Linked DNA regions of Homo sapiens. The protein of the gene in region 2 interacts with the protein of the main gene of each other region in a pairwise test. Each region holds a gene or a part of one and is shown on either strand. Other genes may lie near its edges.

Evidence for each region.
Region 1: the proteins of AGPAT3 (region 2) and BNIP2 interact in binary tests that used the Homo sapiens proteins (3 or more experiments, as listed by UniProt).
Region 3: the proteins of AGPAT3 (region 2) and SLC71A2 interact in binary tests that used the Homo sapiens proteins (3 or more experiments, as listed by UniProt).

Annotation. Positions count from the first base shown.
Region 1 is NC_000015.10:59,675,685-59,679,337, forward strand, and holds part of BNIP2 (BCL2/adenovirus E1B 19 kDa protein-interacting protein 2), read right to left. Parts: intron 2,404-3,653; coding exon 2,227-2,403; intron 1-2,226.
Region 2 is NC_000021.9:43,962,589-43,966,241, forward strand, and holds part of AGPAT3 (1-acyl-sn-glycerol-3-phosphate acyltransferase gamma), read left to right. Parts: intron 1-3,653. UniProt on the Homo sapiens protein: Converts 1-acyl-sn-glycerol-3-phosphate (lysophosphatidic acid or LPA) into 1,2-diacyl-sn-glycerol-3-phosphate (phosphatidic acid or PA) by incorporating an acyl moiety at the sn-2 position of the glycerol backbone.
Region 3 is NC_000009.12:94,377,568-94,381,220, reverse strand, and holds part of SLC71A2 (hippocampus abundant transcript-like protein 1), read right to left. Parts: intron 1-3,653.

The DNA.
Region 1 (3,653 bases), on a different chromosome or scaffold from region 2:
TGTTTATAACAGCCCAAGCTGGAAACAACTCACATGCACATAAAAAAAAACGGATAAGCAAATTATGGTTTATCCAAGCAATGGAAAACTACTCAGCAATAAGAAGGAATGTACTGTGGATACGTGCAACAACATGGATGAATCTCAAAAACTTCATGCTGAAAAGTAAACAAAAGAGTGCATAGGATGATTTTAGTTACTATATATGAAATTCTAGAAGAGGCAAAACTAATCAGGGGGTAGATATGACAGTGGCTACCGAAGCTGAGTATTCATTGCACAGGGGTACTAAATAATTCTTCTGGGACAATGAAAATGTTCTACATTTTTAGGGGTATGGGTTTTATATATATGGGTATATATGGTTATATAGGCATTTGTCAAAACTCATTGAACTGCACACTTAAGATCAGAGCATTTCACTGTTTATAAATTAGGGAGACTGTTCAGTCCCAGTTTTGGGTAGCCTAGAGACAGTTTAAAAAATTTTTTAATTTTGAGACAGGGTCAAAAACCAAAACAAAACAAAAAACTAGAGTGCAGTGGGATGATCACGGCCACTGAAGCCTCATCTTCCCAAGCTCAAGCTCTCTCTCCTCCCACCCCAGCCTCCTAAGTAGCTGGGACTACAGGCATATGCCACCACTCCTGGCTAATTTTATTTATTTTTTTATTTTTTTTATTTTTTTGTGGAGACGAGGTCTATGTTGCCCAAGCTGGTCCTGAACTCCTGGGCTCAAGTAATCCTCCTGCCTCAGCCTCCCAAATTGCTGGGATTACAAACCTGAGCCACCGTGCCCAACCTGACAGTTTTCACTACAAATTCTTTTGTACTTTTTCAACTTACTGTATGCATATAATCATTTTTAAATGGTACTTTTATTCTTTTACTTTAAACCTGTCATGTTTCTAAAATGAATGAGAAATGCTTATTATTCTTTCAAAATTACATAATATCTCTAGGCAGAGTTTCTAAAAGTATTTAGAATTCTGATATTGCATGAAACGGCTAGGGCAGGCGAGCGCAGTGGAGTGCCGCGCGGTGCGGTGCGGGCGGCAGAGTTGGGGTGTCATGGAGGATGAGCGGAGCTTTTCGGATATCTGCGGTGGCCGCCTGGCCCTGCAGCGCCGCTACTACTTCCCTTCCTGCCGGGAATTCTGCCTCAGCTGCCCTGGGCTCTCGCTGCGTTCGCTCACCGCTGTCACCTGCACGGTGTGGCTGGCAGCCTACGGACTCTTCACCCTCTGCGAGAACAGCATGATCCTCTCTGCTGCCATCTTCATCACCCTCTTAGGTCTGCTTGGTTATCTCCATTTTGTGAAGATTGATCAGGAGACTGTTAATCATTGATTCCCTTGGCATTCAGATGACTTCATCTTATGCTTCAGGCTAAGAAAGCACTACCTTCATAGAAATGGGCAAGGTCAAGGATATTGTCATCAATGAGGCTATTTACATGCAGAAGGTGATTTACTACCTCTGCATCTTATTGAAGGATCCAGTGGAACCACATGGGATATCCCAAGTAGTACCCGTCTTCCAGAGTGCCAAGCCCCGGCTGGACTGCTTGACTGAAGTATACAGGAGCTGCCAGGGGATCCTGGCACACCAGAAAGCCACATCAACAAGCCCATGAGCCCCAGCGTTCAGAAGGCCAGCATCGTCTTCCATGGGAGATGACTCTTAAGCCATAAGGGTTGGTTTTCCGTACTCCAAACCATCAGGTGGACACAGTCCTAGGAACCATTATGGATATAGTGCATCTCAGAGCCATAGAGCAGGTGACTGGAAATCTAACTCAGTATATTTCCACGTATTATAGTGTTTTCCTTGTAAGGTTTTGCCTACTTTACCAAAGGAGGGGAGACCTTAAGAATTTTGACACAGTATGTCAAAAGTAATGTCAGCAAAGAACATTGGGAAATTGCTAAGCATGTTCAGGTTTACTTTGTTGATGTTTGTGAAGCAAAACAATGGGAAACTGACATCAGATGTCTTGAGAAAGCTATATTTTCCATTAGTGCCCCTTGTGTAAAGTTACAAAAAAAACAAGCCCTCCAGGAACTGGTTAGCAGGAAGAAATGTCCTACAAAAGACGAGTCTCTCAACCTAGCGCCTGTGTTCTGTACAGGGCTTATTTACTCTTAATAAACAGATATCCTTCCAAAAAAAAAAGAATTCTGATATTGCATTAAACAATCTGAAAAATCCTCAGTAACTCTTACCCCCATGGCTGATAACTTTTTTATAGGGTTCAATTGCCTTCATATCAACCCTGTGGTCCTGTTCTCCAATCCTGAACATACGCCAGCGTCGTCCATCTTCTTTTTCCTCTGCTGCTGTGTATTCAGTAATTGAGCCTTTCCTAATTACTTCAGTAGTCTTGGGTTTTGGAAGATCATCTGTCAAAATACAAAGTTTTTGAATCACAAATTGTTACACAACAAAAATCAAATTATACGTTAACCACTTTACTACCTAGATTTTACAGAGAATTTTCATTATACCATCTGCACAATTTTCAATCTCTCTTCCATAAAGGAGGAAAAGGCTTATTCTTAACATGAGGCTGTTTTATGTCTTTGGAAATCATGGTTCTTTAACTTTTATTGCCCAATTTAGCAAAAACCACCTAATCATAGTGAAACGTGTATCCACAAGTTCAGAAAATATAATTTGTAGAGTCATCAAAATCTTAGTACACTGGCCTTACAATGCCTTTCCAGATTCAACTTGTGACAATATTCTCCCTGGCAGTTATGACTATAGGTTACTTCAAGTAGCTATCTGGGAGCCAATTTTGTTGTTGTTGAGCACATAAATTAACTGTAATACCAGATAGGAAGTGGTTAACTACTCAATGATCACTTCTCATTTGATCAGTTTTATAAAGCAGAAATGTATTTATAATACTTTGAAGTATACATGCAGAAGTCTATTTAAATTAGCATTAGCCAAAGCATAAGCACCAATGATTAAGTGTAATTTATGTTTTGAGATTGCAGTTTAGCTGATTTTCAATGTAGTAATAATTTTCAAAATTTCAGTATTATAGTCCTTACCAAAAGATGGGGGGAGGGGGAAACCTACTGCATGTTAGTTGTTTCCAAGACAAAGCTGTTAACGGAAAATATCCTTCCAGGAAATGACTACAGCAGCATTAAAGAAAGAAGAGACAAAACACATAGGCACAAAACTATTTCAGTATCTTTACAAAGTATTGCTTACTACTGGACTGTTTATTGAACCAGTAAAACAGGGAAGAAAAAAGAAACCAAAAATATAGCATATCACACTTTATTACAGTAAAATACTGAATGCTAAACACTACTATGAAAACAAAATCATTTTCAAGATGGAAAAAAATATGTAAAAATTATAACAACTATATATAAGATACTGTAGACAATTTTGTAATTAAAGAAAGCATGCAAAGTAAAACAGCACAATTCCTTTGAATTACAAGTAATAAGGAATACTAGGTTCGGGGGCTAAAAGTATACATTAATTTAAGTTGGTCATTTCACAAAGTAGAGCAATGTCAGGCAAACCTACTTAAAAAGTCACCCCAAATGCCTCCTTTCAGAACTCCCTTCCCACAAACTGTTAACTATATGTCTCTTCAAAAGTTTCTTACTTGATTGACTAAAAA
Region 2 (3,653 bases):
ACCCTTCCACCAAATCCCTTTAGCAAAAACCGGGGTGTGCAGAAATGGAATGTCAGCACTGCCTTTCAGGAGCCTAACCCTTGGGCAGCTGTAGCAGAGGGCGCTGAAGCTAAACCAGGACTCTTGAGCGAGGGCGCGAGACAAGCTAGGGTTAACAGTGACCCTTGGGTTTCAGCAGAGGCAAACGAAAGTACACTCTGGAGAAAGTCTCATTCAGGCCTGAAGAATCCCACAGATTAAGGAAAATTAAATATGAATTCATAATCAAGAATGACAACGTAAACAGCAGATGTGGACTGAAGATGACCCACTGTGCCCCGACTTGAAAGAGAACCAAGTAGAACTGCTCTCAGTGAGAACTGTAGATATTTTAAAGCAAAAACTTACAGACAGGTTTTGTATCAGATTAGATACAGTTAATGAGAATGGGTACAGAACCAAGTAGAACTGCTCTCAGTGAAAACTGTAGATATTTTAAAGCAAAACCGTATGGATGGATTTTGTATCAGATTAGACACAGTTAATGAGAGAATGGGTACACCAGACATCAATGTGAAGAAATCATCCAGTGACAGTAAAGGAGGTGAAAAATGTGAAATAGGCGTGAAAAGATGTAAGGACAGAATGAGAACCTTCATAAAATAGGGCTTTGGCCCCCATCCCCAAAGGAGAGAACAGGAGAAGCCTCCTGGGAAGAGAGGATGCCTGAGGACCTCCTGAACTGATGAAGGCACGATTTTTCAGATACAGGAAGCACATGTAGACCAAGCAGAGCGAATGCACAGAAATCCACACCTAGGCAGGCCCTGGGGCATCACAGACCATCAGAGACAAGGAGGAGCCGGGCGCGGTGGCTCACGCCTCTAATCCCAGCATTCCAGGAAGCTGAGGCAGGAGGATCCCCTGAGGTCAGGAGTTTGAGACCAGCCTGGCCAACATGGTGAAACCCCATCTCTACTAAAAATATAAAAATTAGCTGGGCCTGGTGGCACATGTCTAATCCCAGCTACTGGGGTGGCTGAGGCAGGGGAATCATTTGAACCTGGTCGGTGGAGGTTGCAGTGAGCCGAGACTGCATCACTGCACTCCAGCCTGGGTGACAGAGTGAGACTCTGTCTCAAAAAAAAAAAAAAAAAAAAAAAGATAAGGAAGTCTTCGAATCCCCGGAGAGGAAAGCTGGAGAACCACGCTGGATGGTCAGCAGTGAGGCCGACAGCAGATTTCTTACGGCAGGCAGCAGTGGCGGGAGAAGGTGGAAGATCCTCAATGTGCTGGAAAATCACCAACCTAGCACCCTGTGTTGTTCAAGAGTACAAATAAAATAAAAAGGTTTTGGTAAACAAAAAAATGAGAGCTTTTACTGCCCATAGATCTTCACTTCAATATTTTTTAAGGATGTGTTTCAGTAAGAACAAAAATTATAAAAGTAGGGTATAATTTTCAAGAAAGAATGGTAGCCAAAGAAATTAGGAGATGGATGAATCTAAACCGTATGTAAAATAAAAACAGTGCTCAGCCGGGCGCAGTGGGTCACGCCTGTAATCCCAGCACTTTGGGAGGCCAAGGTGGGCGGATCACCTGAGGTCAGGAGTTCAAGACCAGCCTGGTCAACATGGTGAAACCCCATCTCTACTAAAAATACAAAAATTAGCCTGGCATGGTGGTGGGCACCTGTGATCCCAGCTCCTCAGGAGGCAGAGGCAGGAGAATCGCTTGACCCTGGGAGGTGGAGGTTGCAGTGAGGTGAGACTGCACCACGCTCAGCTAATTTTTTGTTTTGTATTTTTATTAGAGATGGGGTTTCACCATGTTGCCCAGACTGGTCTCAAACTCCTGACCTCAGGTGATCCGCCCACCTCGGCCTCCCAAAGTGCTGGGATTACAGGCGGGAGCGCCCAGCCCAGGTTCAGATTTTAATGGTAACTTTGTTAAGTATAGGGTAGGAAAAAAGAGAGATCAAACATAGCTTCCAAAGTATTAGAAAAAGATAAAGAAAAAAAGGTAAATCTCTTTTGTTAATGCAAGAAAGTAGAAAGAAAAGCATTAAAATAAGAAATATTGAGGTATACATTAAGATCAATATAAAATTCCCAGATACTTGGGATGACCACAAATACACAAGAAAAGCACTTCAGTAAGAACAGAAATAATCGGCCTCTCCATCTGCTGGGCTTGCGTGGGTATGTGAATTCCGTCTGTGACTTGTTGGATTTGGGATGTTCTCCACTTAGATTTATTTCCATGAATATGTTTGTGGGAGCCTTTCTGCAGTCAGAGGTATGTGGAAGCCTTTGCCAGTTCAGGGGCGCATGGTGAGAGCAGACCTCACAGTGGGTTTGTTTATGTTTGTTTGTTTTTGAGACAGGGTCTTGCTCTGTCGCCCAGGCTGGAGTGCAGTGGTGTGATCTTGGCTCACTGCAATCTCTGCCTCCTGGGCTCAAGCAGTCCTCCTACCTCAGCCTCCTTGAGTAGCTGAGACCACAGGTGTGCACCATCATGCCCAGCTAATTTTTGTATTTTTTGTAGAGACAGGGTTTTGCCATGTTGCCCAGACTGGTCTCCAACTCCTAGGCTCATGTGATCCTCCTGCCTCAGCCTGCTGGGCTGCTGGGATTACAGGCTGAGCCACCGCACCAGCCACAGTGTTTTCTGATGACCCTGAACCACGGTTTTATTTTCAATTCTTCATTCCTGTTCTCATTCCTTAATGCTGGGTGCCTTCTTGCTGCCCATTTTGAACTCACTGCCAGTGTGTCTCTGCTGTCATCTGATGTGCAGAGCTATAGGTGCTGCGGCGAAGGGTGCAGGTTTGGAGCCGTTTAAACAACCTGGCCCAGCCTCCTCACTCCCTGCTGACCTTGGTCAAGGCTTCAGTCTCTAAACCTCAGCTTTCTCATCTGCAGAGCACAGACAAAACCACCTGCCTTTGAGCTGTCTTATAAAGCCTAAATCAATGCGCACAGCAGGTACACAGCAATGCTTGATAAATTGTTACTATTATTGGGTGAATTTTAGGTTTTTTTTGTTGTTGTTGTTGTTTTGAGACAGAGTCTCTCTGTTGTCCTGGCTGGAGCACAGCAGTGCGATCTTGGCTCACTGCAACCTCCATCTTCTGAGGTTCAAGTGATTCTCGTGCCCCAGCCTCCCAAGTAGCTGGGATTACAGGTGCCTGCCACCACATCCAGCTAATTTTTTTTATTTTTAAGTAGAGATGGGCTTTTGCCATGCTTCCCCAGCTGGTCTTGAACTCCTGGCCTCAAGTGATCCTCCTGTCTCGGCCTCCCAAAGTGCTGGGATTACAGGCTTGAGCCACCGCACCCGTCCAGAATTTTAGATTTTTTTAAATCCGTGGTTGAAAAATAGGCTATGGCTGGCTTACTCATTGTGCTTTAGGGAAGCATGTATTTGAGTGAAGGAAATGATAAAAGGAATTTCATATCGGGCCCAGGCGCCGCCCACCCTGCAAGACAGTTTACAGATGCCTGCCCTGACAGCTGTCTGCAGTTAGCCAGCGTCAGCCGAGGGGTCCTGAGATCCGCTGAAGGCTGCCTTTGCATGCCGACAGCAAGGGAAAAGTGCCACATGTCCCTGGGCTTGCCACAGGTGACCTTTGGATGGGACCATTCTCCAGACAGCGCAGCTCGTCTTTCCAG
Region 3 (3,653 bases), on a different chromosome or scaffold from region 2:
CTACTAAAAATACAAAATTAGCCTGGCATGGTGGCGCATGCCTGTAATCCCAACTACTTGGGAGGCTGAGGCAGGAGAATCACTTGAACCCAGGAGGCGGAGATTGTGGTGAGCCGTTATCACGCCATTGCACTCCAGCCTGGGCAACAAGAGTGAAACTCCATCTCAAAAAAAAAAAAAGGGGGAAGAAAATTCAAGCCAATATATAGTGACAGAGTAGATAAATTATCGCCTGGAAATGGAGGTGTAGAGGGAGGTAAAAAGAAACATTTGAGGGTGATGAATATGTTTACTATCTTGATTATGATAATGGTTTCACAGGTGTATAGATATGTCACAACACAAAACTGTGCACTCCAAACACACAGTTTATTTTATGTCAATTAAACTGAATAAGGTTGTTTAAAAAAGACAAGCAAATACAAAGCTAACTATAAAAAAGTCAGACTAATGCTGGGCACAGTGGCTCACACCTGCAATCCCAATGCTTTGGGAGGCCAAGGCAGGAGGATTCTTTGAAGCCAGGAGTTCGAGACCAGCCTGGACAACAAAGCAAGAGCACATCTCTACAAATAAAAATTTAAAAATTAGCCAGGCATGATGGGACGTACGTGTAGTCCCAGCTACCAGGAGGCTGAGGCAGGAAGATCACTTGAGCCCTGGAGTTCCCGGGTGCACTGAGCCATAATCACACCACTGCACTCCAGCCTGGATGAAACAGTAAGACTCTTGTCTCAAAAATAAATAAATAAATACACATTAAGAATAGATTTCTCTCCAATTCTCACAGAACAATGCTCTTGCTATGCCATAACCTCTTTCTCCATAGCATATCTAAGATTTCATAACCACTTGTGAAAGTTCTATGACATGCTGAACTGGAGGAAGGGAAGAGGAAAAGGGGAAGAGAGAACACATGTAAGAAACTGAGAAATTTCTTTTTTTTTTTTGAGAAAGAGTCTCGCTCTGTCGCCCAGGCTGGAGTGCAGTGGCACGATCTCTGCTCACTGCAAGCGTGGTCCACCTCCCAGATTCACGCCATTCTCCTGCCTCAGCCTCCCAAGTAGCTGGGACTACAGGCGCCCACCACCACGCCTGGCTAATTTTTTGTATTTTTAGTAGAGACAGGGTTTCACCGCGTCAGCCAGGATGGTCTCAATCTCCTGACCTCGTGATCCGCCTGCCTCAGCCTCCAAAAGTGCTGGGATTATAGGCGTAAGCCACCGCGTCCAGCTGAAACTGAGAAATTTCAAAAATGCTTCCATAGGGTAATAAAGCATGTTTACGTGTATACAGCCAAAAGGATACCTAACAGTAAGAAAAAATTAATGTATTCCTGTTACGTAGAGGAGGTTGTATGCACTTTTACCATTACCATTGAATACTTTCCTGGATATTCTAGTTCATTTAACATCAAAATAAGATATAAAATTATCAACACGTGCAATATTTGTGAATATTTATCCAGAAGATCCTACAAAATTAAATATTTTTTGAAAGACAAAGCACAAGTTATCAATGCAGAGTACCAGCCAGGCATGGTGGCTCATGCCTATAATCCCAGCACTCTGAGAGGCTGAGGCTGGAGGATTACTTGAGGCCAGGAGTTCAAGACAAGCCTGGACAACACAGTGAGACCCAATCTCTACAAAAAAATTTAAAAACTAGCCAGGCATAGTGCCACGTGCCTATAGTCCTTGCTACTAGGGAGGCTGAGGCAGGAGGATCATTTGAACCCAGGAGTTTAAGGTTACAGCAAGCTATGATTGTGCGCCACCGCACTCCAGCCTGGATGACAGAGTGAGGCCTCACCTCTTAAAAAAAAAAAAAAAAAGGGCCAGGCGCAGTGGCTCACGCCTGTAATTCCAGCACTTTGGGAGGCCAAGGCAGGTGGATCGCCTGAGGTCAGGAGTTCAAGACCAGCCTGGCCAACATGGTGCAACCCCATCTCTACTAAAAATACAAAATTATCCGGGCATGGTGGCACAAGCCTGTAATCCCAGCTACATGGGAGGCTGAGGCAGGAGAATCGCTTGAACCCGGCAGGCAGAGGCTGTAGTGAGCCAAGATCACACCATTGCACTCCAGCCTGGGCAACAACAGTGAAACTCCGTCTCAAAAAAAAAAAAAAGGAAATGCACACCAAGAATCCCTACAGAAGGTGAAAAGAGCCTACGAGGTCATTATTCACAGCTTTATGCCAACTAATTTGACATTTTAGATAAAATGGGCAAATTCCCAACAAAACACAACTTACTGAAACTGACAGAACTAAAAATCAAACAGAAAACCTACGCTGTTCTAGAATTAATCTCCAAAAGGCCAAGAACTATAAAGTTCTAGAACTGTATTACCAATCTTACACAAATTCTTCCACAGAATAGAAAACCAAACTATCCAATTTGTTTTTAAGGCAGATAGCATTTGGATATCTGTCTCCTCCAAATCTCATGTTGAAATGTGACCCCCAGTGTTGGAGGTGGGGTCTAGTGGCAGCTGTTTGGGTCATGGGGGCTGATCTCTTCTCAATTGTTTGGTGTCCTTCTCACAGTAATGAGTGAGTCCTCGCTCCATTAGTTACCACAAGATCTGATTGGTTTTGTTTATTGTTTGTTTTTGAGACAGAGTCTCACTCTGTCACCCAGGGTGGAGTGCAGTGGCGCCTCCCAGTTTCAAACAATTCTCCTGTCTCAGCCTCCCAGGTAGCTAGGACTACAGGTATGCACCATCACACCCGGCTAATTTTTGTATTTTTAGTAGAGATGGGGTTTCACTATGTTGGCCACGCTGGTCTCCAACTGCTGACCTTAAGTGATCCACCGCACGCGGCCAAGATCTCATTGCTAAAAGGAGCCTGGCACCTCCTCCCCTCTCTCTCTTGCTCCCTCCCCAACACGTGATAAGCTGCTTCCCCTTCGCCTTCTGTCCTGATTGCAAGCTTTCTGAGGCCCTCACCAGAAACAGATGCTGGTGCTAAGCTTCCTGTACAGCCTAAAGAACCACTTTTCTTGATAAATTCCCCAGTCTCAGGTATTCTCAGGTATTCCTTTACAGCAACGCAAACAGCTAACATACACCTCCTTTTTTTTTTTTTGGAAATGGAGTCTCGCTCTGTCGCCAGGCTGGAGTGCAGTCTGTCGCCAGGCTGGAGTGCAGTGGCACGATCTCAGCTCACTGCAACCTCCGCCTCCCAGGTTCAAGCGATTCTCCTGCCTCAGCCTCCTGAGTAGCTGGGACTACAGGCGCCTGCCACCATGCCCAGCTAACTTTTATATTTTTATAGAGACAGGATTTCACCATGTTGGCCAGGATGGTCTTGATCTCTTGACCTTGTGATCCGCCCACGTCAGCCTCCCAAAGTGCTGGGATTACAGGTGTGAGCCACCGTGCCCGGCGACACACCTCCCTTTTCTAGAAGGAAATGATCTCTTGGAGTAAATACTTGATTCTCTTTTATTTTTCAGATTATGACATCTCTCTGCCAGTATCTTTTTCTGGTCAATATATCTCTTTGCCAAATAAGGTAGAAAAAAGTTGTCAGGCCAAGCATCATGGCTCTAACCTATAATCCCAGCACTGGGAGGCTGAGACAGGAGGATCATTTGAGCCCAGGAGTTTGAGACCAGCTTGGGAAACAGGAAGACTTCATCTCT